5 separate regions of the Homo sapiens genome follow, and regions 2, 3, 4 and 5 are each linked to region 1. The links come from fine-mapping of genetic effects on gene expression. A gene starts in region 1. Each other region holds a variant in brackets. All regions are shown on one strand. Distances are from middle to middle.

Region 1 (4,231 bases):
TACAAAGTGGAATAACTTTGGAAAAGCACTTGGCATTCTTTAGAAAGGCTGAAGAGGCCGGGCGTGGTGGCTTACGTCTGTAATCCCAGCACTTTGGGAGGCCTGGGTGGGCGGATCACCTGAGGTCAGGAGTTCGAGACCAGCCTGGCCAAAAATTAGCCTGATGTGGTGGCAGGTGCCTGTAGTCCCAGATACTTGGGAGGCTGAGGCAGGAGAATCGCTTGAACCCGGGAAGTGGAGGCTGCAGTGGGCCGAGATCACGCCACTGCACTCCAGCCTGGGTGACAGAGCAAGACTGTCGGAAAAAAAAGAAAAAAATGCTGAAGATTGGAAATCCATTCACCTCTTGGTCTCTATCGTCCACACCTTACACTGCGGCCCCAGCACTCACAGACAAAAATGTCAGCACGAACCCTGACAGTCCCAAACTCAACTCACCCGGAGGTGTATCGACAGAGAATGGATAAAGTGCGGACTAATCGTTCAATTAAAAAAAAAAAAAAAAAAAAAAAAAAAAAAAAAAAAACCTTACCAATATAAGGGCCTACAGTGGCATGTAACAAAGATATGGGTCACATAACGTGAAACAAAAGATACACATGATACAGTATTATCCTAAACAGGTATTATTCAAATAGGTAACAAGACATTGTCAGAACGCATAAAAATGGTAAAATATTAAAAAAAAAAAAAGCAAGGACATTTCTGTATGTTATGACCGTGATAATCTAAGAGGGAGGGAGAGAGTTACGAGCAGTTAGGGGAATCTTCAACTTGGTCACAGGGACACTAATTTTCTTTTTTGAGACAGATCTCACTCTGTTGCCCAGGCTGGAGTGCAGCGGTGCAATCTCGACTCACTGCAACCTCCACCTCCCGGGTTCAAGCAATTCTGTCTCAGCCTCCTGAGTGGCTGGGACTACAAGTGCTCACTACTACGCCCAGCTAATTTTTGTATTTTTAGTAGAGACAGTTTCACCATGTCGGCCAGGCTGGTCTTGAACTCCTGACCTCAAGTGGTCTGCCCGCCTTGGCCTCCCAACATGCTGGGATTACAGGTGTGAGCCACCGCGCCCAACCTATTTCTAATAATTATTCTCACCTGAATGAGATGGCTCACACCTGTAACCCCGCAATGCGAGAGGCTGAGGAGGGGGATCAAACCAGCCTGGGAAACAGAGCAAGATCCCTGCTCTTAAAAAACACGTAATTATTATTCTCTCCAATTGTATTATATGTCGTATGGGATTTTCTACATTAATGTATCCCACCGAAATATTTATTTTAAAGATAATATGTACAGGAAGAAAAAACCTATTCAGTCACTGGCAATATTATGAAGATATGCTATAACCAACATTTGCTTACTGATTTAGCAAATTTCAGAATTATGGGACAGAAGCGTTTTAAGAAGTTACTTATCAAGGACATGATAGGAAACTCCTGAGCGGTAAGGCCAGGCCGAACTCATGCCACGGACGCCCCGTGCCTCCCGGCCTGGGCCGGCAGCGCTGAACTATTACCTTATATTAAACACGGGCTCGTGGATTACCATGAACACTAAACTGCTTCGTCATTTTTTTCCCCATAAATTGAGTCATTAAAAAAACAAAACAGTTCAATTCCGGGAGGCGTCAGTTCTCTGAACACAGCGAGACTTTAAGTATGGGCTGTGGGCGCCTCGGGTCTCTTAAGGACTCGGCCTCCCAACAAAAATGAACTAGGAGCAAAGCTGTCAGCGAGAACCGCAAATGCCGACCCCATTTACTACCCCCGTTAAAGCCCACGCTAATGGAGGGCCCCGCCGGGAGCGCCGCGGGCAGGCCCGGCCCCCAGCCCGGGGCATCGCCCCTGGGAGTAGGAAGGAGCTCCGAGGTCCTCCGGCCTCGGAGCCTCGGATGCGGGAGCTCCAGGAAGGGCTCGGGGTGCGGGACGCCCACAGCTTGGGGAGCTGCCAGCCCCGGGCGCAGGGACGAGGACCCCTACGCCTCCGGCCTGCCCTGGACCCTCCCCTCCCGGGTACCAGCGCGCCGAGCGCCTCCCGTCGCAGCGTCTCACCCGCCGCTCAGCCGCCTCAGCACACACAGGCCCTGCCGCCCGCCGCAGCGCCACATTGCGCATGACGAGCACCTGGCTGGCGAGGAACCCCCTCTTAACCCGACGCAGGGCGCGGGGCGGGGCTTGCCGTGACAGCTACCACTCCTATTGGTCAACGCGAACAGCGACGTCCTCTGCGATAGGCTGTAGGTGAAAAGGGTAGGCCTCCACTGCTCTGGGACGGGCGGGAGGGCGGTGCGGACGGAGATGGGCGGGAGGGGCGGGGCCGACGTGCCGAAGGAGGCGGGCAAGGCGAGGGGCGTGGTACGGGTAGAAAGGGGCGGGGCCGTCTTGCCGAAAGGGGCGGGGTTCGGCCAGCAGCAGGATGTGGACAGATGATAGGAGGGGGAAGTGGGCAGGCGAGAAGTGGGGCGTGGCGAGAGGCGTGTGTATGCAGATGAAGTGGGGCCTGGTGAAGGGCGGGGCTGCGCTGGTGAAAAGAGGGGCTCCTGGAATGGCGTGCTGTGTTGGGTGGGGCTGTGCAAGTGATGGGAGGGGCTTAGCGAGGGGTGGCTCTTTGCAGGTGAGGAGTGGAGACCAGTGGGAGAGGGGATTGCAAGTGAGCTGAGCCTTGGGGGCGGGGCTTGCAGGTGACAGGGTGGAGCCTAGTGGGCGGGGATGCAAGTGAGCTGGGCCTTGGGGATGGGGCTTGCAGGCGATGGGGTGGAGCCTGGTGGGGCGGGGCTGCAGGTGAGCTGGGCCTTGGGGGCGGGGCTTGCATGCGAGAGGTGGGTCCTTGTGGGGGCAGGGCTGGCAGAAGTGGGTGGGGCTTGGTGATGGACCGCGGTGTTCAGGTGAGGGTAGTGGCCTGGTTGGGGGCTGCCGGAAGCTGGGCCAGGTGAAACTTGGTAGCCCTCTCTGGCCTTGGTGTGGGCGTTGGTCCTGTTTGTAGGGCTGAGCTGAGCTCCAAAGGCGTTCTGCTGCCCCGCCAGGCCTGAACCTTGGGGTCTGGGGGCTTCTTGGATGAGATCTCAAGGCTGCATGGCAGGTCCCAGGGCCAGGGCCCCACGGTGTCACACGTATCACGGATGGCCGCCAGCGAAGCACAGCACAGCTCCGAGCTGCTGCATGGGAGCCTGTGGCCCCCGCTGCTGCCTCCGCTTTCCTCTTCGTTTCGTGTCTAGGAAGATGCACCTGAGCCCCCTGACATTGCCCAAGTGCCCAAGGGCCCTTCTGGGAACCCCCAGAGAGGCTGAAGGAGGCCCCCGTAGGAGTGGGTGGTTCTGCACTGTGGGCCAGAAGGGGCCCTGGGATTAGCCACGCTTGGAGAGGGTGGGGTAGCCCTTGGAGGAAGTCCGCACCAAGTCTGACCTTCCGGGTTTCTCAGAGCCTCTCTTCCTTCCTCCCTTCACCTTCTCCCTCTTTTTTTCCCCTTGTATCACGAATACAAACAGGCTCAAATCTCCCTCTGTCTCCTAATGGGCTCTGAAAAAAAAAATTAAAAATTAAATGGTAAGTAGATGGCTGCAGTCGGCTTGAACAAGCTAAAACTTTGGAAGCAATGTGGAAGGTAATACTGTGGGAAAAAGTCCCAACGTGTCTACCCTAAACTCTCCATAGGGCAGCCAGTTCTGGGCTGCAGGTAAACACGTACCTCCTTATTGAAGAGCCCAAAGGAACCAGAACACAGGCAATAATAGGAGCGACAGACACAAACACGCTCTGCGCATCACCCGTCTTCTAGGGAGAATTTGGGTGTGTGCACACAAAATATCCGATCTAGGTCTCAATCAATTTAGAAAGTTAATTTTGCCAAGGTTAAGGGCATGCCCATGACACAGCCCCAGGAGGTCCAGATGACATGTGGCCAACATGGTCGTGGCACAACTTTTTTTTTTTTTTTTTTTTAATACCGTGTCTCACTCTGTCGCCCTGGCTGGATTGCAGTGGCGCAATCTTGGCTCAGTGCAACCTCAGCCTCCCGGGCTCAAGCGAGTCTCCTGCTTCAGCTTCCCGAGTAGCTGGGATTACAGGCACCCACCACTATGCCCAGCTAATTTTTTTTTTTTTTGTATTTTTAGTAGAGACGGGGTTTCACCATATTGGTCAGGCTGGTCTCGAACTCCTGACCTCGTGATTTGCCCGCCTCCGCCTCCCAAAGTATTGGGATTACAGGCGTGAGCCACCGCGCCTG
Region 2 (4,137 bases), 56 kb before region 1:
CATCCCAGGTGGAGGGAAAGGATGCTCTGGAGCTGATGCTCACAGGGGCGGGGGCTCCAAGCCCGCACAGGGCAGTGAGGATGGGAACTGCAGGGGCAGGGCCGGCTTCTTTGTGGGCAGCCTGAGGAGGTTGGCTTTTATGTTATGTGAGATTCGAAGGTCCTGAGCAGGGACTGGCCCACACCAAGAGCTTTCTAAAGGGACCCGCTGCTGTTCACTGAGGCAGGAGGCAGGGCTCCCAGCCGGGGCTTTGCAGTCACCTAGCAAGAGATGGTGGGTCCAGACTGGCTACTGTGCAGATGGCGAGAAACCTTCAAGGGTCTGGAGGTATGGAGGGCACGGAGGGCAGATGGGGTTTGCTTGCTAAGTACACGCAGGCATAAACAGAGGAGGCAAGGATCACTCCATTCCTGGCCTGAGCACATGGAAAGGGTAGAGTTGCAATTTATGAGGACTAGGAAGCCCTGAGACACACTTCTTGCAGGTAGGATGAGGAGCGGAGACTCATGAGGCCAGGGTGAAAGTGTGTGTCCCACGGCCGAGGACAGGACTGGGGATGCTGGGGTGAAAGTGTGTGTCCCACGGCGGAGGACAGGACTGGGGATGCTGGGGTGAAAGTGTGTGTCCCACGGCGGAGGACAGGACTGGGGATGCTGGAGTGAAGGTGTGTGTCCCGCAGCTGAGAACAGGACTGGGGATGCCGGGGTGAAGGTGTGTGTCCCGCCATGGAGGACAGGACTGGGGATGCCGGGGTGAAGGTGTGTGTCCCGCCATGGAGGACAGGACTGGGGATGCTGGGGTGAAGGTGTGTGTCCCACAGCTGAGGATAGGATTGGGGATGCCAGGGTGAAGGTGTGTGTCCCTCAGCTGAGGACAGGACTGGGGATGCCAGGGTGAAGGTGTGTGTCCCGTGGCCAAGAATGTGCAGTAAGCCGCTGTGTCCCAGCATCTTCAGGAGGGTTTGGCTGAGCTCATGGGTTTAGGAATCTTCAGCGTCTCCACGTAGTTAAAGATGCAGAACTCACAGAGCTTCCCTGAGGGCCTGAGTGCAGGCAGGAGAGAGAGAAGGTCCAGGACTGATTCCTCAGGGCGCCATTGTTAAGAGTAGGGTGGGAAGAGGAAACCCCAGCCCAGGAGACTGAGGAGTGGCAGAGAGGTGGGGTGGAGATGCCCTGTGGCATCCCTGGGAACACAGATGATCCACCTTCCACCACCACTGCCCGCCCTTCTGTGTTGGCCCATCCACCCGCATCTCAGCAGCAGGAACCGGATGAGGAACCGTTCTGTCCTGGGTGGATCTTGCTTTCCCCGTCTTTCTTGTTCAGACTTGTGAAGATTAATTGGCTTAAAACTGGTATTTGCTTTATTTAAAAAATATTGCCTTCAAAACTGATTTATGTGGGAAAAAAAAGCCTGATTTATATGGTTCTGTCAAATATATATATATATACATACACACCTTGTACAGTATTTACCTTTTGATGTAGAATGATCTTTTTTCTAATGTAATTTACCTGGAGATCCCCCTGCAGCATGGCAGTGTGTCCACCACATCCGTGAACTTACCCAGAATCTCGTGACCGGAAGCTGCGGAGCTGGGGTTCGAGCCCCACGGGTTCTCCTCCTGCAGTCCTGCCGTCCTCGCAGTGGCATCCTCTTTCTGCGATTACCTTAGTTTGCTTAGTAATCTGTTTTCCTTTTTTCTCCCTAGTTTGTAAGAAAAGAAATTTTCCCTTAATCTTTTACCAACTTAGAAACCATCATGTTACTTTTCTTTTAGTTGCCGGTGGCGGGATACGGTGAGCTGATGTATCTCACACGTGGCTCAGGATGAGACACAGA[G/A]GCCCCGACAGGCAGGGAGAACGCAGCCCCTCTGCTGCTCTTCATGAGTTGTTAACCTTGGACTTCTGCTTCTCACCTTGATTCATCCGGGCATCGTGATAAATGCTGTCTCATACGCCTCTCAAATCTTTACCGGAATGCAGCTTGTTGAAAAGTACAGAAAGCTATTTTTAGCACTTTGCAACTTGCCTTTCATTGTTCACTTTAGCTGTTTCGTTCTGTGTTTGCACATTAGATCAAAGAAATCGGCTGGACAGATGTCGGGGGCTGGACCGGCCAAGGAGGCTCCATTCTTGGGACAAAACGGTAACTTCCAAATCTCAACTCTATGACCTGCTTTTAAGGAAGAAGGAAGAGCCGTGTTCTGGGAGAGAATCGCTGGGTGCCGACGCCAGTTGGATTCCTGGAAAGGCGTCCCTAAGGGAGGGGTGCAGGCAGTTACCGGTCCTCCCTCCAGTGGAACTGCCCGTGTTCCAGGGAGCTGGGGATGTGTCCCAGGGCGTAAGAGAGAAGAGGAGGTAACTTGTGAATGCCTTCCTCTAATTCATATTTCCATTCATTTGAAAAGCCAGCTGGCGAGCCTAAAGCCTCCACTTGGAGGTCATAAAGATGAGTGGTGTCACGGAGCCGTGGAGATGGCACTCTAAGCAAACCCTAAAGCAGCCTGGATAGCAGGTAGCATTGGTGGGAAGCATAGCCCTGAGCAGCTGTGACTCGAGGCTCAGATTTCCACAGCCGAGGAAAGGACCCAAGGAATTCTAGTCTAAAAATCTCTTTTTCAGACCTACAGTAAGCCTGGCGTCCCTGCATCCCTGGGGACAATGGGATTTCCTAATGTAGATGAAGCCTGAGTAATTCTCACCTTTGATCATGTCAGAGGTGCGAATATTAATCTCTGTCATCACTACACATTACAATTTCACATGGAAGGAAGGTAGTTTTTGGCAAATATAATAAATGATGGATTCCATGTAATTCCGGCTTATTGTTCCAAGGGAGTTAGCTGCACCCTTTGCTTTGCTTTACAGCCAGGACCCTGGTACTCCCAGCCACTGGTGGGATGGTGGGAGCCTCGGAGCTGGGTTAGCTCTACAGCTGCCTCCCGGCTGTTCTCATGAGCTCTGTGTGTGGGTGCCCTGGACGGTAAAGCTCTAGGTAGAGGCAGATGCATCCCTCGGTGTGCGTTCTGGGGCTGAGGACTGGCTGCTGACACCCCGGGCACAGGTGCTTGATAGGGCCAGGGCGTTGCTCTCGAACGTAGAGAGGACTCGCTGGCTGTTGTGGGCTCGTCCTGAAGAGGCTTAAGAAACCTCACCTTAGGGGCCAGCACAGGTTTGCACTTAGCTGCATTCACTTGTCTGCTCTGATTGCCTGGCCTGAACGTTTTTGCCCTACGGTGTCTTATAAATCTACCAAGAGTACAAGTACTTCACTTCTTCCAATCAACATGAAACCTTTGGATGGGCTTGGGATGGGATCCAGGGAGGGGCACAGTCTGGTGTTGCACTTGTTAGCCCTGTCATGTGACATTGGTGAGAGCATGGGGGAGGGAGAGCAGGTATGAGCAGATGGGATTTTAAATGAGATCAATAGTGGATAATGCATATGTAAGTTATTTGGAAACTGGAAATTTCCATTTAAACAATTATTGGGCACGGCGGCTCACACCTGTAACCCCAGCACTCTGGGAGGCTGAGGCAGGTGGATCAGGAGGTCAAGAGATGGAGACCATCCTGGCCAACATGGTGAAACCCTGTCTCTACTAAAAATGCAAAAAATTAGCCGGGCGTGGTGGCGGGCGCCTGTAGTCCCAGCTACTCGGGAGGCTGAGGCACGAGAATCACTTGAACCCGGGAGGCGGAGCTTGCAGTGAGCTGAGATTACGCCACTACACTCCAGCCTGGTAACAAAGTGAGACTCCATCTTGGAAAAAAAAAATTGTTATTAATTATAACTTCTTAATTTTATTTTTTCTAATGGGGCAGTAGAGTTCTTTTTAGGTCAAGGTATGAGCTGAAATGCTTTATTCCATTTTCTCATGAAAACACTGTTTTGAGATGAGATTCCTGGTCATTCTGCCATCTGCCAGCCACAACGGCATGAGTGAAAAGGCAGACGTTTACCGCTCCTTAATTAAAACCACAGACTGGGGAAGGCGGCCGGGTGGGGACCGGCGTGGCGTCCTGCGGACCGCGTGGAGTTTGGGGTGTCTGACATCGTTCTCCACGTGGCTATTTTCAGCGTTCTCCCGGGGAAGTACTTGGAAGAGATCGCCACACAGATGCGCACGCACAG
Region 3 (4,231 bases), 20 kb before region 1:
GACAAAAAGTACCACGGAACAAAAGGTGCCATGGAATGAAACGTGTCACGGAACAAAACGTGCCAAGGAACGAAATGCCAGGACACGGCAGGGGGATAAACCTGGTCTCCAACTTCCTTTCAACTCAGCACTCAGCTTTCTGGGGGCTCTCGTCCCTCTGCTTCCTCTATGCTGATGGCAGGGTAAACATTAGGAAAAAGGGCTCTGAGGACGCCTCGATTTTTAAAACTGCGCTTCACACAGTCACAGCGTAACCCAAATCCTCATTTGATTCTAGAAGCAGGAAATCAGAGCGCCCTATCAAACCCCTCTCAGGAACACACACACACACGGGCTCTTACTGAGTGAAGGAGTCTATCACCACCGAGAGTTAAGAACAAGGCAGAAGAATCGTGTAGAGCGAGACTATGAACGCACAGGGCTGCTCAAGTGTTTCAGGGAAAACCTCCAAGACATGACTCTACTGCTTCTGTGAGGAGTGACATTTAATTCCCCCAAGGAACCCGAGACCCGGGAAAAGCGTAGCGTTCACAGTGACCTGTCAGGACCACGTCCAACTCTGTGACAGGTATGGTGGGTTCAATATCGGAAACTTTCAACGCTGGCAGACAAGAGGCATCTTGAGGTTTGCTTTGTTGACTCCGTAATTCTAGACCTAAAAAAGAAACAAGAAAAAGGAATATTCAGGGCCATAATTAAAAGGTTTGATGCAACTTGTCTCCTATGTTATTATCTTAACATCCAGAATTAGCCGTCCACGCCAAGTGTGGGGAGTACAGGAGCACTGTGGTTTGCAAAGTATCTCCTATTTCCAGGCTGACCATATTTAGACGCACTAATAACCTGCTTAGTGGGTAGCCCTTTTCCTAATTCTCATTTTCAATTATTAAGGAATTCTGCTAGGAAGTGGTGGTTTGCTCAAGCAGCTTCTCCTGCACCCCTCCAAAGTTTACATTAAATAGATTCAACTTGTTTTTAGAGTTTTCAAACCATTTCTTGATGGACTGAAATTTAGTGATCTTTATACTTATCTTCTTTTTGTTTTGAGACAGGGTCTGGCTCTGTCACCCAGGCTGGAGTACAGTGGCACCATCTCAGCTCACTGCAGCCTCTGCCTCCTGGGCTCAAGTGATCCTTCTGCCTTAGCCTCCTACGTGGCTGGGACTAGGGGTGCAGACCACCATACCTGGCTGATTTCTGTTTATTTTTATTTTTTTTTTGTAGAGACGAGGTTTTGCCATGTTGCCCAGGCTGTCTCAAACTCTTGACCTCAAGTGATCCTCCCACCTTGGCCTCCCAAAGTGCTGGGATTCCAGGCATGAGTCACTGCACCTGGCCCTATACTTGTTTTCTATTGTTTCATTTTCACTAATTTCAGCAAAAGACTTACACAAGCACATAAATCACACAAATTACAGTGGTGCTTAGAAAGACACTTCCTGGGCCTGACAGTGCATGCATCAATGAGGGAGGCAGCACCTTCACAGCAGACTCCTCCACTGAGCCACAGCCCATGTGGAGAATCCAGAAGACCCAGGCGTGCTCCCCGCCCTGATGGCCATCAGTGAAGCGGCTTCACAGTGCTACACCGAGCCAAGCAAGTATACAAATGCATGATTCCACGACTCCCGGGGAGGGCTGTGCCCAGTTCCCACTTTAACTCAGTCCCCGCAGACAGCACTCCTGGTGTCTGCTGGGCTGACCTCCCCCATGTTCCATTTCCACCTTCTGAAGTTCCCCGAGAGCGTGCCACGCACTTAGACACGGGACCTTGGGGCGCAGTGAGCATCTCAGGCAGTGTCATCCCTCCACAGGTGCCCCACTGTGGGCTCCAGCCCTTCTGTCCACCTCTGGAGCCGCAACTGCCATCAATAACCACCCCTGCTCCCAGCAGCATGTGGAGCCCAGGCTCCCAATGGCAC[G/A]GAGCTCAGACCTGGGCTCTGCAGGCTTCCCCTGCCTGCTTGCCACCTACCTAACATCCTGACTTTCCCGACCTCACGCCACTCGGAGATTTTCTAATCTGTGGCTTTGCCACAAAGCTCCCTCCTGCCTCTTCCCTGACCCGGTTTCCCCCGTGGTCCCTGGGCCCACCTGCGCTAGAGCACGCCACAGCTACCCTGACATCCAGGGCTCCTTCTCTGAATGCACTCACTCACAGTTGGTAGAAAAAGCCTCTGGCACTTTCTCTTCTCTGTTTTCTTTCAGCACATCACACACTCCCTGATGGTGGAGGCTTTACCCCTTCACAGTGCTTAAGACACACACAAGACCAGAAATCGGAAGATTCAAGCTTTTACTACATAGTTTCCCATTCCCCTTTTCTGCATTGTTGTTCTCTACAGATTGGCTTTTAATTCACAGAACCCTAACACTGCCATGCACACTTGAAGACTTACTGACCTGAAATAACCATTCAATGCACTAGCACTGTGCCCTCCTTTCAAAGAGCTACACAGCGAGTGTGTAAAGGAGAAATCTGTAGTGTGAGCACTGCTCATTAACCTACTGGTTTGGACTACAGTATACGGGGTTTTCTTAAAGCACAGCTCTGAGGCCAGGCCACGAATATGAAGTAATTTAGGAAACGTACAACCTGTTGCCTACTCATGGAATTATCTTGTGTAGTCATGAATAATTTCAATTAAAAGCGGGAAGATTGGAGCTTGTCACAAAACAGAGCTTAATAAGGGGGGAAAAAGAGTAAGGTTAAAAAATAGAGCTTAAAACAGTTGTCTCTAGTCTCCACTAAAAATACAAAAAATCAGCTGGGCGTGGTGGTGGGCATCTGTAGTCTCAGCTACTTGGGAGGCTGAGGCGAGAAAATGACGTGAATCCGGGAGGGGGAGCTTGCAGTGAGCCGAGATCGTGCCACTGCACTCCAGCCTGGGTGACAAGGCGAGACTCCGTCTCAAAAAAAAAACCAAAAAAACAACAAAAAAAAACCAGTTGTCTCTAAACAAGAATTCAGATAGCAAGAGTAAGAGCAGGTTACAAACTGACATTAATTTTTCTTTTACATGATGTAACTTCAAACTTAGCATGATCAAAATGGAGTCACTTACTTTCCACCTAACGTCCACTCTTACCTCCTGACAAGCCTGACAATTTCTCACAGAATCCCAGCCCAATTAGCTTTTTTAATAGGAAAAGTAAGTGCATGTGTGTATGTGTTGCATCTATTTTTAAAAGACTTAATACATAACTTACAAGCAATAATATTCACAATTTTAAAGACTCAACTGAGTTCTGACAACTGTGGCAAGCTATGAAGCCACCACATCATAGTACTGGGCCTTTCTAGCACCCCAAAACTCTCCCATCCCCACTGCAGTCAACCACACCCCGACTGGGCCTCCAGCAGCTTCTCATCTGCTCTCTGTCCCTGCAGCTTTGCCACATCTAGGCTTCCCATGAATGGCCTCAGGATGTCATCTGGCACCCGGCTTCTTTCCCTTTGTGGGAAGCTTCGAGATGCACCAATACCAAGCGTGCATCATTGTTGCGCTCCTTCACAGCTAGTGGCATTTCTTTGTAAGGATGTATATGTTGATGGAAATCTGGGTTGTTTCAAGCTTTGTGCGGACGCCTGTTTTCATTTCTCTTGAAGGAACGTTAGGAGCGGGGCTTTCCTGGTCCGTGCATGTTGGCTGGCACTGTGAGAACTGTGACCCCGTTTCCTAGGTGGCCACACCATTTTGGCTCCTTTGGCAGCATGTGAGCATTCCCCCTGCCTCTCAGGATTGATGGCATTTGGTGCTGGCAGTAATTTTTAAAATGTTAGTCATTCTAGTAGGTGTATAATTGTATATCACTGTAGTTTTAATCTGCATTTTTCTAATAATTATGATACATTTCCCTAAGAAAGTAATGAGATTATTTCCCATGTAATGATTTATGTGCCTATTTGCCATTAGGAACTCTTAGATGATATCTGTCAAAATCTTTTACCCATGTGTTAATTGGGTTGTGTGTTCTCATTACTGAATTGTTCGTTTTTCGTATATTCTGAATACAGGCCTTTATCAGACACCATTTTTGCAAATGTTTTTTCCCAGAGGCCAAACTACCTTTGAGAATCCATTTGGGTCCCCTTCTCTCCCGTGGCCTCCTCCCTTCCTTCGTTCCACCCGGCTGCTCCCCCAGCGGCTGCCAATCCCCGTCTCACTTTTCTTTTCACTCCCACCATCCTGGCCTAGGTCGTCATGTCATGCTTAGGTGTCTAATTGCCTCT
Region 4 (4,231 bases), 50 kb before region 1:
GTTTTACCACCTCTTCTTCTGTGTGGCCACCAGGGGGACGTAGTGTGGCCGAGACTCCAGGGGTGCCCGTGAGCACCCGAGGCGCTGAGGAGGGCTGGGTCGCAGTCTCCTGTGATTGTACCAGCATTAAAAATCGCTGTGTGTGTGTGTGTGTGTGTGTGTGTGTGCTGAGCCTAAATTTTCTTTGAGCCTCCAATACCCATTATGATGAACCCCTGCCTTGATGCTGAGGGTAGAAATTGAACTGAATATTTTATAATTTTATTCATTGCCCTGAATGCACCATTGCATTTGTTATCTCTCTGGTCTTGGCTGTTGACCTCATTTTCCCCTTTGTAAACTGGGGATGTTAAATTACCTCTAAGGCAATAATTGGTGCTACTTTAGTTTTTTTGCCAAGAGACAATAATAAAACATAGAAATATATTCTTCTTTTTTTCTTTGTGGGACGGGGTCTTACTCTGTCACCCAGGCTTGAGTGCGGTGGTGTGATCTCAGCTCACTGCAGCCTCGACCTCCCGGGCTCAGGTGATCCTCTCACCTCAGCCTCCCGAGTACCTGGGACCACAGGCATGTGCCACCATTCCCGGCTAAAAGAAATATACACCTATTCCCATGTTTGTGTGTCACGCTTGGTAATTGATGTGGGAGTTTGAAGATCCGTACCTAACACAGAAAGCATTTCATTTTTTTAAAATTTGATGTCTAAAAGTTTGTAGTAATTCTCAAGTTTTAATTTTTCTTGTGAGACTTGGTTCTCATGAATATTTTTCAAAGATATTTTTTCTTGTAAAACCTTGGCATGAAACTTATTTCTAGCACTGGTAAATAAAAAAACAAGCTTTTAACATACAGCTCATATGGTAAGTAATGCTTAGCACTCGTTTCTTGCTTTTCTGAGCGTTTTAAACTTTCTTCACTTTCTTTGCGAAGGAAACCTGCCCAGGTTTTCCTGTGTTCACTGGCTTTGGGGGCAACTTTCACCTTATTTTTGGCAGTTGCTAATCTCTGACCTAGACGTTGCTTCTGTTCTCCTGGTGGTGGGTGTCACGGCTTTGCTGCTGCGGGGCTGGCCCGGCTCTGGACCTACCTTCGCACTGTGAATGTGAAGATGAGCCTCTTTCACAGACTGGATTCCGTCATTGCTTTCACTGCTCTTTCGCCTGCTTTAGCTAGATTTTTGGGTCTGTGAAAGTTGGGTGTGCAATGGGAGGGACTGAAGCTTCTTTTTTCCCTAATTGTTACCTAATTGGAACTCGCCCAGAGGGAACGGGTGGAGAATTTGAGAGCGGTCGCTGCAGTTAGCTGAGTTTCTTTTTAATTCCAGGGTCCTCTGCTATAAATAACTGTTTTTTTTTTTTTTTTTTCAGATTGTAAATATGTAACAAATGCATAGGGTCAAATTTATGAAAACCAAAATACGTGGGGCAAAAACACCCCACAAATGATCATTTCCACCTGCTTTTACTTCCCTTGGAGGGATTGTGTGATTTATTATGCGATTGTTTTAAATGCAGTTTTTCATTCATTCGAGTTTCTCGAAGCTAGGTTAAACAATTTCTTTTTTTTTCTTTTTTTTTTTTTTTTTTTTTTTTTTTCTTTTTTTGGAGACAGGGCCTCACTCTGTTTCCCAGGCTGGAATGCAGTGCTGCAATCGCTATTCACTGCAGCCTCGACCTCCCAGGCTTAGGTGATCCTCCCACCTCAGCCTCCTGAGTAGCTGGGACTACAGGTGGGTGCCACCGTGCCCAGCTAATTTTTTGTATTTCCATAGAGACGGGGTCTCCCTGTGTTGCCCAGGCTGGTCTCAAAACGTCTGGGCTCAAGCAATCCCCCTGTCTTGGGCTCTCAAAGCACAGGGGTTACAGGGATGAGCCACCGCGCCGGGCCTGAAGTTAACTGATTACAATGTCTGAGAAAGAACTGGAGCGTGTAGTTAGTTGAGCCTCCCGTTGGCCAGGCACAGCCACCTTGGTAAGTGC[ATG/A]TGTGTGTCCTTGTTGCCCTTCTGATCCTGAGCTCCAAGGAACAAGGCTGTCTTGGGAGTGCGGTGGTTCTAGTCTCGTGATGGGTGAGTGGCGCCGTCTGACCGAGGTCACCCTGGCGAATGCTGTGGCTGCTGGGGAGCTGGGACAGAGAAGAGAAAGCCGCTGAGGGTCCCTCTGTGGACCCTGAAGGGAGAGGGACCGATATGTGAACATGGCAGCTGTTTTCTCCAGAGCCCTGTTTACTGACGGCCGAACAGTGTGAATCCTGAGAAGGTTTGGATTTGGGTCTGAACTGGGCTCGTCTGGCCATAGAAGAACATGAGCTGGTGGCGTCCTCAGGAAATCAGGGTGTGAGGCAACTGGACGTGGATGGCTCCGGGTCCCCCCGGCCACTGTCCTGAAGCCGCCGGAGGCTGAGGACGCATGGGAGTGAGCGTCTCTTCCCTGTCCGGCCACACCCTCTGTGACTGGTGACTCATGGCATGGCCCTGGGCAGCATTTAGGTTTGAGGTCTGTAGATGGCTCCAGTATACTGGCTTCTATTGTTCAGAAAATTTGGTGATTCTCATGGGGGCAGGGGTGGTGATTTTGCCCCAGGGGATGTTTGCAACGTCCAGGGAGGTTTCTGGTTAGAAGTGGGAAAAGGGATGCTCCCAGCATCTGGGGCTGGAGACAAGGGACGCTGCGGAACGTCCCTCAGAGCACAGGGTGGGCTCCATAATAGGAGTCTGGCTCAGGATGTCGCCGTGTTGTGCTTCGGAAGCCCTGGGCGGGGCTGATGTGGTGAAGCCTCATCTTCTCTGGACACGTGCGTCCTCGTCCTCTCTCATGATTTCCTTCTTGCCAGCATTGATGCTTAGCCCCTCAGAATCTATGCGGTGCTGGTGAGTGGTCCTCCGGGCAGAGCAGAAGGAATGAGATACCTCAGAGCCGGTGTGACACGTTCTCAGGATACGGCTGCAGGGAGTTTCAGTCCGACCCTTTCATTCCTTAGCACTGGCCCATTACTCCGTCCTGTAAGCTCGATAAGGTCACATCAGAAGCACAGTAAGCTGCTGCCACGCTGCCGTCAGCTGCCGCGAAGGTGGCAGTGACCACAGCCTCGTGACTGATTCACAGCCTGGCTGCGCTTGGTCTTGAGAATTTTATGTTTTGCTGGGCAGGGTCTCCCCCGTATTGAAGCTTCCCTTCCCTTTTTTGGAGACTGAAGGAAGGAAAAGAGGAGTGATAGGGAAGAGGGGAGAGAGGATTTGCAGCATTGTGGCTGTCCCCACAGATTTCAATGTGGAGTTAAGCTGCCGAGACCCCCACCTGCCCTCCTGTGTGCCTCAGGCCCCTCCTGGTCCCAGGTCACCCACACCGTCTGGCTTCCAGCGAGCGCTTCTCGGAGAAACAGCCGGCTCCCCACAGCCAGTCTTGGTCAGTCCTGAGCTCGGGTATTCCACAGTAAAGTGAGCGACATCACCTGTCTGAAAAGCATAAGGAGACTCCCACGTGGCGGTGCTGAGGGGCCACATCCTGGGCACCAGGCCAGCCAGTGCCCCGACATGAGTGTTGCTGGCTGGGAAGCAGCTGGCATTTGGATTGAAGTCCTGCAAAAACTGCCATGGCCAGAGCCTGCCAGGCAGAGCCTGCACAGAGCGGCCCAAGAGCTGGGCACGTGCTGGGCCTGGGTGGAGGTGGAGGCTGTGCCATGGGGTGCGGGGGACCCTGCTCACAGCTCACCTTGTGGTCACCCAGCACTGACCCCGTTCACAGCTCGCCTTGTGGTCACCCAGCACTGACCCACCCGCCCCACCCTCCTATCCACCGTGCTGTGAACTCACCTGCCACGGGTCTACACCCACTGTCCGAAGCCCTCGGCCCACACGGGCTCCAGGCCTTGGGATGCTTTGCGTTGCACCAGGGCTGCAGAGCCCAGATCGCTCACTGTCCGACTCTCCCAGGGAGGTGTGGGCGCCGCCCTGTGTCCCACCAGTAGCATTTCTGCAGCAGATGTGGGGATATTCACAGTAAGACGGACACGTCCAAGACCATAAATAGTTGGTTTTGCCACCACGTGGATGTCAAAAACACCTTGCTGTGTGGGGCCACTTGGAGGTGGGAACAGTGGGCGTGTGGACCTGTCCTGCTGTGACTTTGGTTAACACCCTGAGGTGGAGTCTGAAAAACCCCGGTGTACACGGGCTCAAGAACCGCTCCCCTTTCTGATACCGGAGCGCATTTCCCAGTGGAACCCCAGAGCA
Region 5 (4,231 bases), 45 kb before region 1:
GTCATAAGCTGGACATGAAGACCTATGGTAGTTCCACAGGCCTTTGCTGCAGAGACGGTCCTCACTCAGCTGCAGACAGGACGGTGGCCACCGTGACATGTGGGGTCACGTCCGTGACTTGGCCACCTGGTGCGAGGGACCCACAGCAAAGCAGAACTGCTGGCCGGGGTAGGCCTGCATCGCGTGCGGGGACAGCAGCCACTGGCCTTTACCTTACATCTTGACGTCCAAGCCAGCTCCGGAGTTTGCAGTGAAAACTCCCAGTCCTGCTGGAGACTCCTTAGTTCAGCTTAGCACAGAACCTCGGAAGACAGCAGTTCTATTCCGGGTACTTCCTTCAGAGCTGAGTTACAGTGCAGGGAAGGGAGCAGAGGAGCCATGAGGTCGGCTGCAGCTTCCTGTGAGTCCGAGCCTCAGCCTCCCACTCGAGCTGAGGGGCGTGTCCTGGCCATCTCTCTCCTAGGCTTCTCCCTGTGTTCCCCAGTGCTGTGGTGGTCTTGCAGAGGCTGGCCCTGGCTCATTCCCAGGACTTCCTTGGGCCCCGCACTTGACCCCTGTTGGGTGAATGCCATTAGGGTCCGGCCATCGCTGGCTTCACTCTCCTTTAGCACCTTGTAGATGTCCATGCACACTTCCACCCTCGCGCCCCACACGCGACGCAGCCCTACCCTGGCCAGCAGCTGTGCTTTGCTGCGGGTTCCATGCTGTAGCAGGGACAGGACCCCCACCCCCTGTCCCGTCTGGCCACCGACTTCAGCAGAGGCTCGGCTGCCGTGAGGGATACCAGTCATGGGAAAACTGGCCTCCCTGCAGATTCACAGAGCAAGGTGGTTCTCACAGAGAAGTCAGTGGCTTTTTTCTACGTTAATGCTGTAGCAAACGCCACCTTTTCTTTCACCACCAATTTATATTTCTTAACACCCATGGAGCAAAGTGTGGTGATGTTTGAACTGTAGCCTGGGGCTCTCGCTCCCATGGGACTCCTCGGGGAATTTCTCAGCAGCAGGATCGCCTCTGCGTCCTTGCAGGGGGTGGCGTCTGCTGGGGGCACATCCCATCGTGCAGGGGGAACGGCTGAGGTCACAGGCTTTGCCTGACAAGTGCCACTCACAGCTGCTGTCCACGTGCCAGCCCTGGGACACAGCCCTCTGCCATCCTTCCACCCACTCGGAGGCCAGGGAGGCACCTCCGTGCCACACTGCAGGCAGGCAGGGCCGCGCTTGGGATCTGCCGCCTTCTTGTCAGTGCTGCTTTGACTAATTGCCTGAGGCACGGCCGGAGTGACTTGCTATTTTTAGAAGCTAATTCAGGCTTCAGATGCCATCTAGGTAATGAGGAGAGAGTTCAGGAAAGCTGTATCTAAGCTCCAGCAAAGGCGGCCTCTTCCGTACCAGCTGTCGCTGCGTTTACACTGAGACGAGCACACAGTCGGGGGCGTGGCTCAGGTGTCAGGGCTGCGCTGTTCCACAGCCCCCTGGGGCAGCCTGGCGGGACCAGAACTCAGACACGCCTGGGCACAAATCAGCCTCTTGGGAGAGCTGCTTTGCCCGCAGAATTCTTTTGCCATTAAGCGGTTGATGTCATTCTTTGAATGAGTGACAGTAATTCCCCACCTCAGGGTGGGCTGCGGGGGAGATTCAGTTGGAAAAGTAACCCATGAGGTTTTGTGCCTCTGGGGGTCCTGAGGCCCCACCCGTGCCTGGGATTCTCTAAGACAAAGGA[G/C]AAGTCTTAAAGCCTTACAGCGTCTTAAGTCTTAGATCACATTTAGAGAGACCCGGTACAGGTGGAACAGTGCAACCCTCAGAATTCTGCACTGGCCCTTCAAGAAGGCAGTTGTGGGCTCTTTGGACCCTTGACGGGGATCTGTCCTCTGTCCTCCTAAGCACAAAGATGGGAATTCTTCCCATTGCCTGTTTCTCTCCCCATCTCGGCTTCTACACAATGCAAAGTGGCCCGCTAACTAGAGTCCGTGTTCAGTTTTGAATACATCAACCAATTATTTTGGGAAGAAAAGAATCTGCCAAAGAAACTGGAAATACAGTTTGGAATCATTTAATCAAGCCTGCATTTATTAATCAAAGTGCACTTTTAGATTTCATCCGAAGTGCTCAAGTGAACATTTCCCAATGGGTGTTAAACTTGGGTGCACAGACTCTCACGTGGCTCCTAGTCTCAAGTCCACACCCCCACTTCATGCTCTTACTCTTGGCTGAGTCCCATGGAGGCCCATTAGGGAATCCTGCAGGATCAGCCGTTGACCAGGACGGACGGACGGCTGGCTGGGGAATACCATGCTTATGTCATTCAGAGACAAGCATTTCTTGAGCGCCTGCTGTGGGGGCTCGGCCGGGTGCTGCTGATGGTGCACTGGTGTAAGCCCAGCCCACAGTTCCTGTCCTCATGGAATTTGCAGCCTAGTGAGGAAGATCCTCCCAAGTCAAATAACCACAAGGTAACTGCAGGGAGAGACACCGGGATAATTTCTGTGAAGAGAGGACATGGGGTGGCTCCGAGAGCCCCTGACAGAGGGAACTTTGTGGTCCTAGAAACCAGGTGGTGTTTTCCTGAGGAAATGACATTTTCCTCTGGATCAGAGCTGAGGAAGGTGCCTCTGTGTGTCCCGTGGCCGCTGTGACACTGACCACACACCTGGGGCTGGAAAATAATACTCTCTCCCACAGCTCTGGAGCGCAGGAGCCATGGGCTGAGGCCAGAATGTTTGCTCCAGGAGCGTCCCTCGTGGCCCGTTCAGGTGCCCAGAGTTGCGGGCCTTGCACGCCTTGTACGCCTTGTTCCCTGGCGCCTCCTCCTTCCATGTGGGTGTGCAGCATCCCGCTCCAGGGCCTTCAGCCTCTGCGCCCCTCATCTGCTGATGCAGGTGATGGCATTTAAGGCCCACCTGGGTACTCCTAGGATTCACCTTTATCACCGCATGAGGGAGCATTCCCAGGTTCCAGGGATTAGGGATAGGACTGGGATTCCTTTGGGGGCTGCTCTCCCGCCCACCACTGTGCCGGAATGTGATGCACACAGCGGCCAGCATATCCAAAGGCCCCAGGAGGACCTGGGGTGGCTGGAACAGGACCTGGTGCCGGGAGCAGGCGGGGCCGGGGATTCCCGACAAAGGCTTGATGTGTACTTGAAGTGAGCAAAGGGTTTTGAATAAACCAAGAACTGGATCAGATTTATGTTTTTTATAGATGGGGTCCTTTCTGTGTGAACGGATTGGAGGGTCCCGGGGTGGGAGCTGAGGCCCAGGAAGAGGGCGTTGCAGCCGGACTGATGTATGGGTGGGAAGGCGGCCGATGCATTTCTTTGCCATTTTTCTCCCCGCCGAGCTTGGGTCCTCATGGAGGGCGGATGGCAGACATTTCACTCTGGGATCCGATGCCTGTGCATCTGGAAGACTTCCCCAGGTGCCTGGGTCTAAGAACCACCATCTGCCTTTGAGTAGAGTTTCCATAAATGTAACATTCGCCAATGGATGGAAGATGGCCGCACCTCTAAAATCACAGGGAGCTTTTCAGAAGAAAATAGAATAGCACAGCGGTTCTCACGGACTAAGCTGGCAGGGGACAGTCCCCTAACATCTCAGCTAACACCTAACGGTGTCTGTGTCCGGTGAAAGCGGCTTCAGCAGGGACAGTCACAGAGCAGCGTGGAGTGAGCTGGCTTGTGGGGTCGTCTTTTCCGTCCCCTTCTATGGGGCCTGGGAGAAGGGAGCGGCAGATGGCCAGGCCCCCAAAACGGGACATCGAGGTCACCTCCAGGTGGCTGCCATGGTGGGGTTGCGGGGGACCACGTTCACACCCACTCCGAGGGCACATCCTGGCTGCTGCACACCCTTCACCTCTGCGGGATGCTGGGACCGCATGTTTGGGCGCGGTGGGGGGGCCTTGCTGCACTCACTCTTGGGGGAGCTCTGGGATGGTGGGCGCGCCCCGGGCCTGGGCTGGAGTGACTGATCGCTTCTCTGTGACCAGACCTGCGACCGCATCAAGCAGTCCGCCAGCGGAACCAAGCGGCGCGTGTTCATCATCGAGACCATGGGCGGCTACTGTGGCTACCTGGCCAACATGGGGGGGCTCGCGGCCGGAGCTGATGCCGCATACATTTTCGAAGAGCCCTTCGACATCAGGGATCTGCAGGTATGTGACGGGGCTGGCCTCAGGGCCCGTCCCCTTGGGATCCACTGGGTGCTGCGGAGTGAATCATCGTGTCTAGGGTGGTT

What was found. PIP is the estimated chance that this variant, and not a neighbour inherited with it, causes the effect. A credible set is the group of variants that fine-mapping cannot tell apart.
Region 2: its variant is the best candidate, but not a certain one, in a credible set for the expression of PITRM1 in prefrontal cortex (ROSMAP, PIP 0.51).
Region 3: its variant is the best candidate, but not a certain one, in a credible set for the expression of PITRM1 in B cells (Schmiedel 2018, PIP 0.87).
Region 4: its variant is the best candidate, but not a certain one, in a credible set for the expression of PITRM1 in unexposed skin (GTEx, PIP 0.87).
Region 5: its variant is the best candidate, but not a certain one, in a credible set for the expression of PITRM1 in tibial nerve (GTEx, PIP 0.54).

Annotation. Positions count from the first base shown.
Region 1 is chr10:3,170,659-3,174,889 of GRCh38, forward strand. PITRM1 (pitrilysin metallopeptidase 1) reads right to left here and starts at 2,124. Exons shown (of 27, transcript NM_014889.4): 1 at 2,059-2,124. The coding sequence starts at 2,114. RefSeq lists silencers at 1,649-2,488, 2,779-2,938 and an enhancer at 3,137-3,674.
Region 2 is chr10:3,114,699-3,118,835 of GRCh38, forward strand. It overlaps PFKP (phosphofructokinase, platelet), which reads left to right. Exons shown (of 22, transcript NM_002627.5): 14 at 2,078-2,148; 15 at 4,084-4,137. Among named protein-coding and RNA genes, the nearest start is that of SNORD142, 17 kb to the right of the region's middle. The variant G/A (reference allele first, on the strand shown) is at 1,843.
Region 3 is chr10:3,150,709-3,154,939 of GRCh38, forward strand. It overlaps PITRM1 (pitrilysin metallopeptidase 1), which reads right to left. Exons shown (of 27, transcript NM_014889.4): 15 at 539-655. Among named protein-coding and RNA genes, the nearest start is that of PITRM1-AS1, 11 kb to the left of the region's middle. The variant G/A (reference allele first, on the strand shown) is at 1,923.
Region 4 is chr10:3,120,233-3,124,463 of GRCh38, forward strand. The region is part of intron 16 of PFKP (phosphofructokinase, platelet); the gene reads left to right. Among named protein-coding and RNA genes, the nearest start is that of SNORD142, 12 kb to the right of the region's middle. The variant ATG/A (reference allele first, on the strand shown) is at 1,983.
Region 5 is chr10:3,125,836-3,130,066 of GRCh38, forward strand. It overlaps PFKP (phosphofructokinase, platelet), which reads left to right. Exons shown (of 22, transcript NM_002627.5): 17 at 3,984-4,148. Among named protein-coding and RNA genes, the nearest start is that of SNORD142, 6.2 kb to the right of the region's middle. RefSeq lists an enhancer at 3,380-3,893. The variant G/C (reference allele first, on the strand shown) is at 1,723.